Linked DNA regions of Homo sapiens: region 1 is linked to region 2. The links come from fine-mapping of genetic effects on gene expression. A gene starts in region 2. The other region holds a variant in brackets. All regions are shown on one strand. Distances are from middle to middle.

The links. PIP is the estimated chance that this variant, and not a neighbour inherited with it, causes the effect.
Region 1: its variant is fine-mapped to the expression of TENM1 in whole blood (TOPMed, PIP above 0.99).

The regions. Positions count from the first base shown.
Region 1 is chrX:125,288,642-125,297,142 of GRCh38, forward strand. No RefSeq gene overlaps it. Among named protein-coding and RNA genes, the nearest start is that of TEX13C, 27 kb to the right of the region's middle. The variant G/A (reference allele first, on the strand shown) is at 5,363.
Region 2 is chrX:125,201,060-125,209,560 of GRCh38, forward strand. It overlaps TENM1 (teneurin transmembrane protein 1), which reads right to left and starts at 3,253. Exons shown (of 35, transcript NM_001163278.2): 1 at 2,745-3,253. LOC124905211 (a long non-coding RNA gene) reads left to right here and starts at 3,401. Exons shown (of 2, transcript XR_007068314.1): 1 at 3,401-3,640; 2 at 3,983-7,061.

The DNA.
Region 1 (8,501 bases), 88 kb after region 2:
CCCCACATGCCAGAGCAAAACTCAGGCAAAGGCACCACTGGCCACAGAGGTTTCCAGCTGGAAAAGCAACACCCCAAGGATCCCATAACAGTGTGAGCCTTGGCAGTGGTCATGTGGTGCTGACTCTGCAGACACAGAATACATGAGCTATGAGGCCATGGTGACCTTCACCTAGATTTCAAAAGATGTATTGGGCAGCATGCGGGTTCAGGAAGAAACTTGTCACAGGGGCAGAGCCACTATAGAGAGCCCCCACTAAGGCAGTGCCTAGTAGAGCTCTGAAAATGAGGCCACTACAGAGAGTCCCTATTAGAGTAATGCCTAGTAGAGCTGTTGGAGTAAGTCCGCCATCAATACCCCAGAGCTATAGAGTTACCGGAGTGCAATACCAGCCTGAGAGCTGCAGGCATGTAACTCCAACCCAAGGGATCTGAAGCATGGACTGAGCCCAGTAAAGCTGTTGGGGCAGGGCTGCCAGAAGCCTTGGGGGCCCGATCTCCACCCCAGTGTGCCCAGGGTGCTGAACATGGAGTAAAATGAAGTTATTCTCCTGCTTTAAGACCTAACGTTGTTTTCTCTATTGAGTTTTGGACTTACCTGGGACTGGTTACCCTTTTCTTCCTGCTTATTTCTCCCTTTTGGAATGGGAATGTCTAGCCTATGACAGTCCCACCATTGTGTATTAGAAGCAGATGATTTGTTTTGATTTCATAGGGTCACAGCTGGAGAGAAATGTGCCTCAGTGTGAATCATACCTTGTGTTCATGCATATTTGATTTAGATGAGACTCTGGACTTTGGACTTTTGAGTTGATGCTGGAATGAGTAAAGGCTCTGGGGCTATTGGGGTGGAGCTAATGCGTTTTCATATGAGAAAGATATGCACTTTAGGGGCCAGAGGTAAAATGCTATGGTCTGACTGTGTCTCCCAATGTTGATGTGTTGGAAACTCAATCCCCAGTGCAGTAGTTTTAGGAGGTAGGACATTCAAGAGGTAATTAGGTCATGAGGGAGTGGGTTTGTTATTGTGAGTGGGCAGTTATGAAAATGAGGTTGGCCCTCTCTTACTCTTTCACTCTTACCCTCCCACCTTCTGCCATGAGATGATGAAGGATGAAGGCCTTCACCAGATGTCAGTGTCATACTCTTGGACTTCCTAGTCTCCGGAACCATGAGCCAAATAAACTTCTTTCCATTATCTTTTTTTAAAGACAGCCTCACTGTTGCCCAGGCTGGAGTGCAGTGGCATGATCATAGCTCACTGCAGCTTTGAATTCCTGGGCTCAAACAATCCTTCCATCTCATCCTCCTGAGTAACTGAGACTATGGGCACACACCACCGTGCCTGGATAATTTATTTTATTTGTTATTTTTTTGTAGAGATGGGGTCTTGCTTTGCTTCTCAGGCTGGTCTCTCAAACTCCTGGTTTTAAGTGATCCCCTTGCCTTGGCCTTCTAAAGTGCTGGAATTTACAGGCATGAGTCACCATGCCTGGTATAAACTTATAATGTTTATAAATTACTCAGGATGTGGAATTATGTTATAGCAGTACAAAACGGAGCAAGACAAAACCAAAATGAGGGTCGATGCCTGTCATATTTCTCAAAGTCTATGCCATGCTCCTCAAAGCATTCATACAATAATTAAATGCTGGTAACATTTGTCTCTGTAGACAAATATTTTTGGTTTCTATTATTAGACAATAAGAACTATAAAATCCCATAATGTTTTCAATTTATGTTTGAGTCCAAGAAGATGAGCACTAAATTTAGGGCTCAATTGCAACTAAATCAACCTGAAACTCTTAGCAAAATTCAATTTTTACTAACAAATGGCATTTAATTTACATAGGCTTAGCTTTAATATTTAAATCAATTTATATAATTTTAATGAATGGTGATACTATCAATTAATAAAAATGAATTTAAAATAAGCAAAAATATACATCTTTTAATAATTTCAGATTTTTTTTTTTTTTTAACTTTAAGTACTGGGATACATGTGCGGAATGTGCCGGTTTGTTACATAGGTATACATATGCATGGTGATTTGCTGCACCCTATCAACCCATCATCTAGGTTTTAAGTAAAAATCATATGCAGATAAGAATGCAGAAAATATAATTAGAATTTGGAAGAATTATAAATGAAAATATAAATGTTTATTTTCAAGTGCTTTTGCTCATATTTAAAAATTCAGTATTTGGAATTTAAAGGTCTCTGCTTATTTTAGAGTTATTCCAAAATAACTGGGAATGTCATGGTTCTAGTAATTTTTTTTTAACTAGCAAGACAAATATGTCTAAAGAAGGATTAAGCTTGTTTGTTGATGTGGAATTGTCAGTAATGTGTTTAGGGTGGAAATGTATTTCAATTTTTTGGTGCCTTTCCTTGAAAACTATAGAGTCTTCAGAGGCGTTTTCCCTAAGGGTCATACCATGTAGCTATCTTAAAGGGAAAAGAACTTTATAAGTAAGTACTTCTGATGCCTAAGGAATTAGTACCCTCATACTAGTACCTTTTTATATGGTTTAATTTTCCATCTCACAGTAACCAGTTTTATGTCATATGGGGAACAAATGCAGGGTCATTCTTTCTTTTTAGATTTGAGACAATTATCTGTACTATTTAAGTAAAAAGTAAACTGTGTGCTCCAGAGTGGCTGTCAATATTGACTAAATTGACAGAGCAATTACTCAACTTTCTATTTCATTTGCCTTTGTACACATAGCCACAAATCAACTGGCTCAGTTAACTTACTCTGAGGAATTAATTTCCTTTGAAAACCTAACTTTTTAGCATGGTACAATTTAATAATAAAGTAGAAATATTTACAGTGGGCAAACTTTGAAAATAAGTATAAAATTAAATTTGGTACTCAGATACTTGATATAAATTATGGTTATATTCATTTCAACCATTGCAATGACTCAAGCAGATTTATTCATTCAACAAGCATTCATTGAGACCTAATATGTGCTTTTCACCGTGCTAGATCTGGGGACACAATATAAAATATCATGTGTCAGCCTTCAACAAATTCATAGTCCAGTGGGAAAATCAGACACAGAAAGAGATAATTATACAACAATATGGTAAGTGCAGTGATAAGGTTGTATAAAATAGTGTTTCAAGAAAATTAATGTAGTGGCACCATGTAAAGTGCATTTGAGTTAAGAATATGACATTAGTAATATAAAGTAAGTATTATTACTATTCCTTTTTTATGTATAAGGAAACTTCAGAGGCTCAGAGAGATTCAGTCATAGTCTGGGATCACTGAGCTTACACATTCATGTGTTTATTCATTGATACATTCATTCATCAGAAACGATTCTGTAAGCCACGAACAGAGCAGTGATCAAAACAAACTGGATCCTTTCCTTATGGATCTTATAATAAATCCAAAAGTGCTCTGAGAATTCAGAGAAGAAGAAGATAATGCTACATATTTGAAATTTTAGAACGTGCAATTATACATTAAGAGGCAGAGCTAACAGGCTGGGCTCATCCCACTTGTCTGAAATGTAGTTCTTCTATGTTCTGCCAGCCAGGCTATGGAGTATGGAGTGGGCTTTCATGATGTTTATACATATATGGGCCTGCAGCATTTACTGAGTTATATTGTCTGAGTGGAATTTAAAATACATCATGGCTGTATAAACAATGTGATGAATAACATTAAAAAGTTAATTCTAATTAAAATCCCAGGGGTAACTAATTAGCATATGAAATGTCTTTATCTGAAGCAACACTTGGGGCTAATTAGCAGGTGAGGTATCTTAAATGAATACATCAACTTAGGGTTGGCCAATTTGCACAGGAATGTTAAAAATATTTTTTGATTGGAAAAAATAACAGTATTTTAGATATGTGATTGTCTGTGAATAGTGCAAGAGGACCAACCTCATTGGTATGAATAAGGTGTTGGAAATCTGCAAGGTGTTGGAAATCGGAAGTCTTGTGTCATAGGTACATTCCAGGACTGAAACTTATTGGTCTTGCATCTCCTTTTCACTGAAAATCTTACCCCTTGATAGGACGACAAGCTTCCACATTCTGCCATTTAGGTGAAAGAATGCAATTGCATTTGTTTTAGAGTAAACTTTTTATGCAAGGTGGACTTAAGGATAGAAAGAGGGGCCTCTTTTATCTATAAACAGGTTGTGAAGAAATGTGAGTACCTTTGTTGGAATTTGGTCTGAGGATTGTTTTCTCCTCATAGCCAGGTTTTTAGGGTTAAGGACAGATAGCCTCTATCTGTTTTTTAGTTACTGGTGAATACTAATTTTTATCAGAAAGACCTGACATTCACAGAATCACGAAAACAGGCTCAAGCCTGTTTGTTGTGGTGAAGAATTCATTGCCAACTGGGAACCAGAATCCACAATTCCCCAAATATCAAACTATCCATGATCAGAATGTTGGTGGTCAGTGGGAAGGAAGGAATTTATGTTCTTGAGGAAGAATAGTCAGCTAATGGTCGTATGGTTTCTATCCTCTAGAGAAAGTTAGAACAGAGCAACAATACTTTGCTTTTATTCCTGAATGCTTCACAAAGATGGTAAGGGTTCATTATTTCAATCAGCCAATACTTACTCTTTTCTTATTAGTCAACCTTGATTATATACTGAAATTGACTTTATAGGGACCCCGTCTTAGTCTATTTTGTGTTGCTGTAACAGAATACCTCAAATTAGGTATTTTTCTAATCAATGAAAATATTTTTAAAAACTTTTTATAGAGACATGGTCTCTCAATGTTGTCCAGGCTAGTCTTGGACTCCTGACATCAAGCCATCTTCACGTCTCAGCCTCCCAAAGTATTCAAATTACAGGCATGAGCTAACTCCACACAGCCATGTAATTTGTAAATGATAAAAGTGTATTTGACTCACGGTTCTGGAAGCTGGGGAGTCCAAGAGCATGGCACCAACATTTGGTGAGGGCCTTCCTGCTGCATCATCCCATGGTGGAAGGTGGAAGGGCAAGAGAGCATGAGAGCAAAACAGCAAGAGGGAGCTAAACTCGCTTTTGTTATAAGCCCCATCTAGAGATAAAAGAACTCATTTCTATGATAATAACATTCATCCATTTATGAGGGTGGAACCCTTATGACCTAATCACCTCTTATTAGTTCCTACCTCCCACCATTGTTACTTTGGGGATTAAGTTTCCAACATATGAAGTTTGGTGAACACATTCAAACCATACCAGACCTCTAACTTCTAACTGGTTGTAGATCTTGATGAAGACATTTCACAGCACTGCACTCAGTTTTGCTAGTGGTTTCCAAATTTCTCTCTCCTATCATTTGTTTTGCAATTTAACCTTTTCTTTTTACATCACAGTTCTGGAAGTTGT[G/A]TAACCCTAGACTCAGGCTAACAAGTAATTGAGTAATTGTGACACTGCTTTAACATACATAACCATTATTTCATTCAGGAAGTTACCTTTTCCTTCAGTCTATCTGAGGAAGTAGCCCTGGCTGCTCATTACTTCCTCCTTATGCTAGTCTCATCACTTTTTGGAGGATTTTATCAAAGAGATTATAAACAGACAAAACTTGATGACTGGTTGAATACTGGGAGTCATTTTGAAAGAGCAGTTAAATATAATGCCTAGGCTTCAAACCTAGGATTCCTGAAGTATATTAGTACCATTAATAAAAATGAAACTGAAAATAGGACCTGGCATAGCAGTCATCTAGAGTAAGTGAGACTGTATCTTATAGATATTATTTGCAAGTTATTGGACTAGAAGTGAGAACAAACTTCCTGCAAACATACTGCTTAATGAGTTCAAGAACTAAGGCTGTCAAGGTTAACATTACTTTACTATTTCAGGACATTATTGCCTAGGAAAATAAAGTTGCAACAAGGTTTTTATCTGAACAATAAGCTGATCAGTTAGCTGCCCTGCTCAAGGCAAGAAGTTACTCATCAGGGTAAATATCACCATTCTCAGGATGACAGATCACTCAATGTGCAAACTGCTTGCTTATCAAATGATTACTCATCAGGACACTTCAAAATTCTTGCTTTGCTGCATTCACCAATCTAAAAATCTGTGTTACAACTTTTTTTTCCGATTCCAGGCAGATCCCTTCTTTGAAAGACCTTCCTTAAGACAAATCCCAAAACTGTATGAAGATCTGCCCTTTCCCTTCCCCTTCCAAGACACTACTAAAAGTCTATCAAGGTGGTGTTTTCTCTTAATACAACACAGAATACATTCAACTTTGTCAGATCAACAAGATATTTTGGTGGTCTTTTTAGGGGTCAGCAGTCATAGATGTGATAGTTAAAGCTATGAAAATAAATTAGTTTTTTTTAGGGATACGCATAGCATGAGAATATAAAATGGCCTAGGAGAATGCACACAGAAAGTGAAAGGAAGAAGATGAGCCAAAGAAGACTATAACAAAAGAGAAAAACAGGATATTATTATAATTTAGAGCCAAGAAATGAGAGAGAACTTCTGTATTGGTAGGGTGATCATAATTGTCATGCATGAAAGGTTTAGAATAATGAGAATTAAAAGGAGACTGTGAAATTTGTTTAAAGGAAGTTTAGGAAACTTCAAAGAGAACAGTTAGGCATGGAGTGGATCTTTGGTTATTAAATGTGGCCAGTGGGTCTATACTAAATCTAAAAGAATTTAACTGAGAAAAGAAAGTGAAAATACATTACCATAGTTGAAAGAATCCCCTAAATCAAATTTGGCTTAGTGAAGCTTCCACTGGACTGGAGATATTCAAGGTAGTAGAGAAATGACGTAATGGTGCAAATGATTTAAACCAGACTTAAGCAAATTTTTTCTGTCAAGGGCCCTTCTGTCTGTGTCACAACTAGTCAACTGTGCCATCATAAAGCCAAGGAGGTAGCTAATACATAAATGAAAGAGTGTGGGAGGATGTGTTCCAATAGCACTTTGTTTAAAAATTGGTTGGCAGACTAGATATGACTCATGGACTGCAGTTTAAAGACCAGTGATTTAGACTAAGAAAGTGTTATGAAATAAAAGAAGTCTTTTGCAATCCAAATAGTCATGATAGTTGTCGATATTAAATACATTAACTGGACTTGAGCAACTATTCACAGTGTTTATAAAGAATGCCTGAAATTGCAGCTTCTGAAGACAGCTCTTCATTTTTCCCTAAAGAAAAATATTACAGAGCTGAAGCTGGCATATGATCTGTATGCATCTTGATCACCATACTGGATTATCCTACACTGAAATAAATAAGTCTTTGCGTGACACCACATTTTGCATAAAATGTATGTTTCCTAAATTAATAGCTTTTGTCAACTTAGAATTTTAATCAATGCATGCTACTTTGTTATTCAAATCTCCTGAAAACGAGAATAGAAAAAATTAAGATAATTAATACAAATTAACAAGATACTTAAGTTAATCCATTGAGTACTTCCACATTCACGTTTAGACTTACATAATATTAATGCCCTAAAAGAAGTTTGGATAGTGTTATTCTGAATAGGGAAGTAAATGACGGAAAAAGGATATTGCAATAGGTGTGGCTTGTGAAGCTCAACTATAGAAGTTTTAAAAATTTACTTTGTAATTCATTTTAACTTTAATTATCTATGAATCACGCACGTTTCATAAACTAGATGCTTGCAAATAATGTGTTTTGGGGATTGATATTATTGTCAAAGTGGAACTAAATAGTGATATTTAGTAATAAAGTTACAACAAAGTACTATATGCATTATAAACTAAATAATGAAACCATTTTTAAGATTAAGAAGTCTAAAAAAGGTGAGGTGTCTATATAGCTTTTTTATGTTTATTTAATCATGTTTAATCATGAACATGCACAATCATAGCATTTTATGTGCCTTTTATTTATTATAGATTACACTGTTTTGATTACTTAATCACTTTCCCTTTTCTTTAAATTTTATTTTTAATTGATGCATAATAATTATACATATTCATAGGGGACAATGTGATATTTCAATACATGCATGCACCGCATAATGATCAAATCAGGATAATTAGCATATCCATCATCTCGAACATTATTTTGACTTAGAATTAAGAAAAAACAAAACTTAAAATGTACTACATTGCAACATATAGGCCAAGTACTTTATATTGCAACACTATATTTTGTTTTCATAACAAATCTTATAAGTATTATTATTATTGTCATACTACAGGTAAGAAAAGTAAAGCACAAAATGATTATTAAACTTTGTAATAGTAATGGAGTTACTATTACAGTTCTGTCATAAATGGCAGAACTGGGACTTGACACAGTTCTATCTGACTTGAGTTCCCAATCACTAAACTACCCTAATATATCATCTCTGAAGAAAACTATTAGAGATAGGGCTGGGAAGTGCAACAATACAACTCATTAAGTAGTAAGTGTCTAGTATATGCCAGGTTCTAGTCCCACACTGGATATGCCAGATTTCCTATGGAAGAATTTTTTTTTTGACAGAGTCTCCTTGTGCCACCCAGGCTGGAATGCAGT
Region 2 (8,501 bases):
TTTTCTGTTTTCAGAAACAACATATCAGGAATGTTTTGCAGTTTGACAATTTAAAGTAATATTGTATAGAATAAACTTGAATGCTAGACTGTTCTGCTTCAGCAAGAATCTTTCTGGTAAAGGTATCAGAAAGGATCAATGACTATGAGGGAAACTATGATTATGTCGGTGTTATTTACACATATAATAGCTGAATTGAAACACTGAGAATTCTAGGGTATTCAGACTGAATTAGGCCTTTGAATGTGATGATAGTTATGTATAATACAATTTTATTTTAATACACCTAAACGTTTGAATATTTGAAATCTTAATCACCTTTACAGCACAATGATTCTACAAAGCATTCTTTCCTTTAGCCTCACTGTATATTTTGTCAAATGACATGACTGTCCCTAATTCATAATTGGAACCTAAACCTAATGGAAAATACTACTTCATGTATGCAAAAATATTTGTGGGGTTTTTTTCTGCTATGTATAGCTGACATTGTTCTCAGGACTGGACTCTACTAGTTTTATTATGAAAATGTTAACATTTCTTCATAGAGTTGTTTTATAGAAACACCTGTTTTTCAGAAACATTCTGGGGAACAACCTGAAAACTTTTAAATAATATTTAGAGCATGGATTTATTTTAGGAATTACCTGATCCCTTTTTAAATGCATATTTCGACTTTCTTTAATCATGAAAAGTTTTCAACATTATTTTGTCATACCTGAAAGCTTTTAATTACTCTTAAAAACCCCAACTTTGCCATAGTAAATTATTTAATGCATCACAAAATAGTGTTATGAACTTGAACTAAAATGGCAAAATTGGGATTCTGTTTCTCCAGTTATGTACTTTGAGGGTCTTACTATGCCTTATGAAAATTCATTTTTCCCCACGTTGCAGATATGAAGAGCAAGGAGCGGGGGTGAGCAAGCAAGCAGATGCTGGGTAATCATGGAGCAGAAGTTAAAGGTGTGGATCGCCTTTTCATTAATTTTGTTTTTTAAGCCTTTCCCTCTTAGACTCTTCCCTTTCTTGGTAACACTGGAGTATCTACTGCTCCAGATCAGAAGACTTCGGACTAGGAAGATGAACTGGGCTATTTCAGCCAAAAAATATAATAGAGCAGACATTTGCCATGTTCTCCTCAAACACGTTAAGAGTAGCAATTGATTCTCACAGTACATTGTTACCTGGCTTGTTAATTATAATCATAGAACAAGAGTCTAAAATTCAAGGAAGCTGTCTGCGACACTTACTCGTCACAAACGCGATCAATTAAACGCTAATCTAACAGTACCTATTAGAGTGCACTGGGATGTTTCGTTTCCTTTTGGTCTTTAAAACCAAATGGCTACTAATTTCCTTTCTGTAGCACTGAGAACTTCTCTTTGTATTTCTTTGGGCCACCTCAAAAACACCTCCAGGTTGGTATCCCAGGAAAACAACGGTTAAGTTCAGGACGTTTACTGACCAATTGCTTCATATTGGAGATGTAGAGCTTTTCTACCCCTATTAGCATATCGCCAGTAGCAGTGATGCAGATCTGCTCAACCCGAAGCTGCCGACGGCGAGTACGAGCTGCAAACCAGCCCCCGCCCCCGCCCCTACTCTCCCAGTGGCGACACAGACGTGGAAACATCTACTAGTGGAGTGAGATCCTCTGTCTCCGCAATTGTAAACAACTGACTGCATCGGGTTCACTGAAATGTTTAAATACACTCCTGACTGCAAACACATCCACTCACCAAGTAGCGCTAACAATCTCCCCTTCTCCGCCTCTAGGCAAAGCATCCTGAAACTAAATTGGCAATCCTCCTGTTATGGAGTGGAAGAAAGTGAGGTTACATTTCCCCAAGCCTGCCTAGCGGGTGCTTGGCGCTCGCAGATATGCTGGCCGTTGCTGAATCTCGGGGACCAAGTCTCTGGATGAAATGCGGAAACACACAAACCCGCACATTGGAGCGCATGGTTAAAGTCAACACCGACGGCTCCTGGAGCACCGCCTGGGTTGTAATGACTATCTCTTTTGACAAAGATTGACAAAGGTATAGGGAGGACGCATCGGGTGGGGCCCTCGACGGCGGCGTAGGTTAGGAGGTCCTGCAGTTCCCCCGGGAACCCGGGCTCCCTGAGTGAGGCTCAAATAGAAATTCAGAAGCAAACAGGTACTAAAGTGCGTCCTAGCCCTTGGGCATATTCTCTGCGGAGACAGCAGGACCTGGACCCCAGTGGCAGAGCCCCAGGCGAACGCTCCAGGGTGGGAGGGATGCCAGAGAAGCGCCCCTTTCTTTCTTTTTAGACCGAGCCTCCCATCCTCACCCCAAGCACCCAGGTCCACTTGTTAGAGTGACTGGGCTCTGCGCGAGAGCCGAGGCGAGGAGGCTCCCTCTCAGAACTGAAGGAGTTGGTTGGTAAAAGTGCCGCCTGGGAAGCCCAGCGAGCCCTCGAAGGGCAGCGTCCCCAGGGCCCGCTGGAAGCTTGAACTGCGAACAAGGCCGACCTCCCTTCTGCCCCAGATGGTCCAGAGCCCCATGGCCGGCGGAGACCGGGAGAAGAAGGATGCGGAGGCTCTGCCACCTCGGGCAGGAGTCCCAGAGCGGACTCAACCGGCCGCTAACAGCCAGGAGCCGCCATCCGCCGCCTGCAGCCTCGGGGCGAAGTTCGCCTGTAGTCCTTGGGGTAGAAGGTTGGGGGTGGCGGGCGGGAGCGAGAAGGAATGGGGTGGGAGCCAGGAGAAACGCACCTACCTATTCCAAGCGCAAGTTTCGGCGGCGTCCCCAGGTGCTGTTCCCCCGCCCCCTCGCCAGGTGCTCGGCTCCGCCGGGCGCTGCCAGTGCCCGGGACTTAGGGCGTCTCGGCCGACTCCTGCGGGAAACGACTGTAAATCCACATTACTGTTCGAGCTGCCGCTCGGGCCCCCGCATTGCTCTCCTCCGGCTGCTGGCAGCGGTGCTCTAAACCGGCGGCCGCCGGAGGCAGGAACCGAACCTAGCTACTATTGCACCAGCGGACGACCGCTGCCAGAAGGGTGCTTGCGCCCAGGGTCCTATGTGTGTGCGAGAGAGTGTGAATACGTGTGTGTGTGTGAGTGAAAGAGAGTGTTCGTGTGTGAGAGAGCAGAAGGGGTGAGCTCAGCCCCCGGGGCACTCGGAGGTGAACTCCGGGCTGAGCCGAAGCTCGCCGCGCTCCCGGGTGCTGGGCGTCTGCTCGGCTGATGGCTGGGCTGATGTTGCCGTGGCCGCCGCCGCCGCGCTCTAAGGCTGGTCGCGGTGGTGCAAAAAATGTTTCTCCGCTACTCGAGACCAAAAAACCTGCCCTGTCTACTGAGCATGCCCGGTTTGACAGCTTCACAGCCGAGGTTTTTTTTTTTTTCTCCTTTTCCCCAAGACTCCAGGTTTTAGCCGCAGCTGAGATGGGAGGTGGAGGGAGGTGGGGGGAGGAGGAGAGGGAGAGGAGGAGGAGGAGAAAGAGGAGAAGGGCTTAAGGAGCAAGTATCGGGCAGAGGAAGGGAAGTCGCAATGAGAAAGATCAGGGTGTTATAGGGTGGAGAGGGGAAGGAGAAAGCTGGATATGGAAGCAGAGGAAGGAAATATGGATCAACAAAATTTAGATTTCCTACTACAGTGGATAGATGCCTGGCCAGGTGACTCACTCGATGTTTTTTTTTTTTTTTTTTTTTTAATTACTTTCTCCTGAGGGTGAGGGGTGGGGTGGGGGGTTCGGATGAGTATTTGTCAACCCCAGGATCAGCCTGGGACAGTGTTACCTAGTCATGACATACACAAACATCGCGTGCACACACACGCGCGCGCACACGAGCGCACACACAGGAGCACAATCACTGCTTCTATGTTCAAAGCCTCAGGACTGACTTAGAATGCGAAGTCTTTTGCCAGTATAACTTTGGCAAAAAAAAAAAAAAAAGGGCGGGGGGAGAGAAATTGTTTGGTTTCCTTTTCTTATTCTCCTCTCCCCCGCCTTCCAGAAAAGCCAAAAGCCCGTGAATGCGGTGCATAAGCGACCCACAAGCTCTCGTGCGTCTGTCGGTGAGAGTGCACCGCCGACTGCGTCCTGCTGACAGTGTGACCCCAGAGCGCCAAGGCCGGCCGGCCACATGCAGCCTACTGGCGGCGCATCAGATCAGCAGTAACGACGTCCACCTGAAGGTGGTTGGGGGAAGAGGGGAGCGCTAAGGGATCCTGCCCTGCCTGGCCGCCCAGGTTCCTGGGCTCCCTAAACGGCTCCGCCCCTCACCCAGCCTGGCACCAGGGCACGTACTCGGGCGAACCCAGCGCGCTGCCCCAAGCCCTGGATCCCTCCCTCCCTCCCAACCCTCCTCAGCTTCCTCGAAAAAGCGGAGAAGCGGAATCTGCACGCCCAGAAACTCGCGTCAGAAGCCTTAGTAGTCCGACTGGGCATGCTCGGGACTTGGGGCGCTTCGCATGGAGGCACTCTCCAGCGGCTAACATCTGTCCGACTGGGCCAGATGTGAGTCTGAAGTAGGAGGCTTGGATGCACGCTAGAGCAGGCTCTGGTTCCGGGAGGGGTGGCGGCGACGCCCACAGCAGTCTTCTTTCCGGCTTCCCACAGAGAGCAAGACCGTGGGAGATACCAAGTGCCGAGCCAGGGGAGCTGCACAAACTGGAGAAATAGGAGTCTAGCGGATTCCCAGGCCTCCTGCCCCGCGGTGCCACCCCAGCCGTAGGCAGGTAGGGGGCGCGCAGAGCAGCTAGGGAGCACCGCGTGTGCTCCCAAGGGACTGCTGACCTCTAGGTAAAGAAAAGAGAGCGTGAAGAGTCGAACATTCTTTGGGCGAAGGACGTTTACTGATTTTTTTTTTTTTAAGTAAAGAAAGAAGGGCGTGTGTGAATGCGTATATGTGCACGCACGTTTTAAATTTTCCTCCGCAAGAACAGGGACAGGAGAGCGAGAAGCTATTGCCGAGTTGGGAACCCGCTAGAGGTTACAATAAGGCAGGCTTGGAGTCGTGGCTGGTGCTAGTTACCGGGAAGAGTTCCTCTTGGCGCGGTGGGCGAACACCAAAGCTTCCAACTGTTCCCTTCCCTGGGTGGCGGCAGCTGCCCAAGGTCGGCTTCCGGGCTGGTCTCTGTGCTCCTGAGCAGGGGGACCAGATTCAGTTTCAGAAAGAGAGGTAGTACAGAGTGACGCCAGGGGGAGTTCTCTGAACCGTGTGTTCCCATTTTCCCAGCTTTTGATATAGGTATTTGCAAAGAGGGAGCATTGTAAGACCATCACACCACCAAGGGGAGGAAATACAAAGAGCTGAACACTCTAGGGGGAAGAATCAGGGAATCAAGAGCACGTTTATTCCCATCGTCCCTTCCCAACAAGGTCTTCAGCTTCAGGCAGGAATCATTTGGATCCCTGCGGCTCAACACCCTCCCACTCCCGTCCCGCCCCACCGCCCTGCCAACAAAGAAACAAAAGATGACAACCAGGCTCTGTAGGGGCATAGCAACTGCTTCTATCACCGGCTCTCTGTTGGGCTGTTGAGAAAGCAGTAGTGAAAGGATGGGTATAAAACCTGTGTCTTGCCACAAATATGTAAACGAAACCTTCCTAAAACCCACTACCCTCCTACAAAACAAAAACAAGTTATTTGTATAAACATATATAGATTTAAGTATCCTAAATAAAGATTCCACATTATGAACTGCCCAAACCCTGAACTGTGGAAGGAAGACTTTCAGGATACCTCCTCAATCCTTACCAAAGAGTTCTGGAAGGAGAAAAAAAAGAAACATCTGGCCAGTCACTTCTCCAATGACTGGAAATACTCTGGGTGTTTCCGTAACCAGCGATTAAGAAAAGAACTCCCCATAACAAAAAGGGAATTCTGGCCAAATGGGACATGGACAAACCCTAATGACCAAGGAAATGGAATATGAATTTAAAAGCATGATTATCTCACTCTCATTCTTGCTGTTCCTTTGTTACTCTTCTTGAAGATACTGGCAGAAAGGGAGAGTTGATACTTAGGGATTTCATGAAAGGAGGCCGAGTTTGTTTCTCTCCTGGCAATTCAGCAGTCCCTGTAATCATTTTTTTTTAGAAATTCTCTACCACCTCCTCTTTATGCTGTATTTTCTCTAGCATTCTTCCCTCTCATTTCCTTACTGGTCTCCTGTGGCTCCCTGGTGTCCTTAATTCATTTGGTCTGCACCTGTCTCCCTTTAGTTCCTTCAAAACATTGTTTCCAGTCCTAATTCCGAAGTACAGAGGGCTCTGTCACTTTTCTCTGTTTCCTAAGAACTGATTTGCTGCTTCTAGACGCCTATATCCTGATATTGTAGGTGGATTTCCTAAGGCATTTATTCAACTTTAGAGATTCCCCAGACACATTTAAGCAACATGAAATTGCAGAATTTTCAAGTAGTTTTGCTCATGGGACCAAGAATTTCTATTTCAAATATGAATATCAGGAAGAAGACACACTAAATTGCTAGTTTCAGAATAGCCAATGTAAATATAACAGATTGTAATGGAGCATGCAATCTCTATATGACAGTTGTCCAGTTGCCAAGTGTATATTATTAAAATAATTTGCTAGGAATTTTAAGATATATACCTTTTTGTTAACAAAGACACACACACACACATGCACTCATACACCTTTTTATGTTTATTCCCAAAACTAATGTAATTACATAAATTCAATTCAGCAAGTGATTATGGAACATCTACTATATTCCAGGAACTGTGCCAGCATTGGGAATAGGCAAAGAAATTGAGACTTAAAGAAGCTAAGAAATGTTCAAAGATGTGTGAACAATTTGCTAATCAACAAGTATATACTGTGTGACTGTTACCGTGTATCTAGACTATTTCACTCCTAGAGAACAATATTTAGATGTTCTGGCCTTGATTTTTTAAATATATTTTTAATCTATAGGTTGCATTCTGTGAGAAGAATGCATAATGGAAAATATGACATGTCAGTTTTGTTTCTAAGTACCCTCATAATAAGAATGTAAGTACAATAATATTTGTATTAGTCTATTCTCACGCTGCCAATAAAGACATACCTGAGATTAAGTAACTTATACAGGAAAGAAGTTTCATTGTACTCACAGTTCAGCATGGCTGGGGAGGTCTCAGGAAACTTACAATCATGGTGGAAGGGGAAACAAACATGTCCTTCTTCACATGGTGGCAGCAAGGAGAAGTGCAGAGCAAAAGGTGGAAAAGCCCCCCATTATAAATCCATCAGATCTCATGAGAACTCACTCACTATCACAAGAATAGCATGGAGGCAACCACCCCTATATTCAGTTACCACCCACAGGATCTCTCCCATGAAACACAGAGATTATGGGGACTACTATTCAACATGAGATTTGGTGGGAACACAACCAAACCATATCAATATTAGAAGACTAAAGTCAATATCAATTACATAAACAAAATCAATGTGCACCATCTGAAATGAAGGAGTTTTGTTTGGTTGCTTGTCTAATGGCAAGATGTTTTCAAAGGCATAATTTCAACATGTACTCGTTGTGGTAGACTATTATTTCCTATTTCAACTGATAACAACACCATCCAGAGATCAACTAGCAGAGATTATGAGTAGTGCTGGCACCTTAACTTTTGGCTACAATGATTGGAAGCAGGAAAGGTAGCTTAATGATTTTCTACCCAAACAGCTTCCATAAACAGGGCTGTAAAATTGCAGTCACCAGCTTGCTGCAAGGGAGTGCCCATTTCCGGCCAGCTGTGGGCTCCCCCTGGGGAAAGCAGCCACCTTGGAGGAAGCTTATTTGAGCCTGGATATGAACAGTTGGTGGCCAGGATTCTGCATCCATCTGTTCAGAACAGAGTCAGACACACTATTTTTCACATACCCAAGTAAGGCTCAGGAAAACAACTGGCAAGCCAATTAAAGTCTTCTCTTTACCTAATCCTATTTAGTATCCAAATGGACCCTGTGGAGCTACTTCTCTGGCCAGAGTGCGAAGGAGAAACAAAATGCCTTTAAAAAAAAGTTTGGGCTTTAGCAAGGCACTTTGTATTCCACACAGCAAGTTCTGCTCATGGAAGTGTACATTCATATATAATATCCCTCACTGGAAAGGCTCCATCAATGCTGCTTTACCTTACTCTCAGAATAAAATACATCCCTAATACAGACTAATCATAACCTTCAGAAACCAAAGCTTCTCAATAGGGTGCAGTGGCAATTCATTTGTATTATTGCTATAATGGATTCAAATAACTGCCTAAATTTAAATTTATAGATAGTTTTAAAAATGGTACCTTGGTCCTTAATTTATATAAAATTCACTTATATTCACTATCCATACACATAAACCAATATGGCAATAATAATAATTTATACCCTCATAAAGATAACATAGTGCCTTCCCTTGAAGATCTGAAAGCTGACTTAATGCTAGTGTTTGTCTTTTTATTGGAAATACTTTTAAGAATATTACTTTTTAGCATTTTTTAACTATCACAGTTGTTGAAAAGGGGAAAAAAAT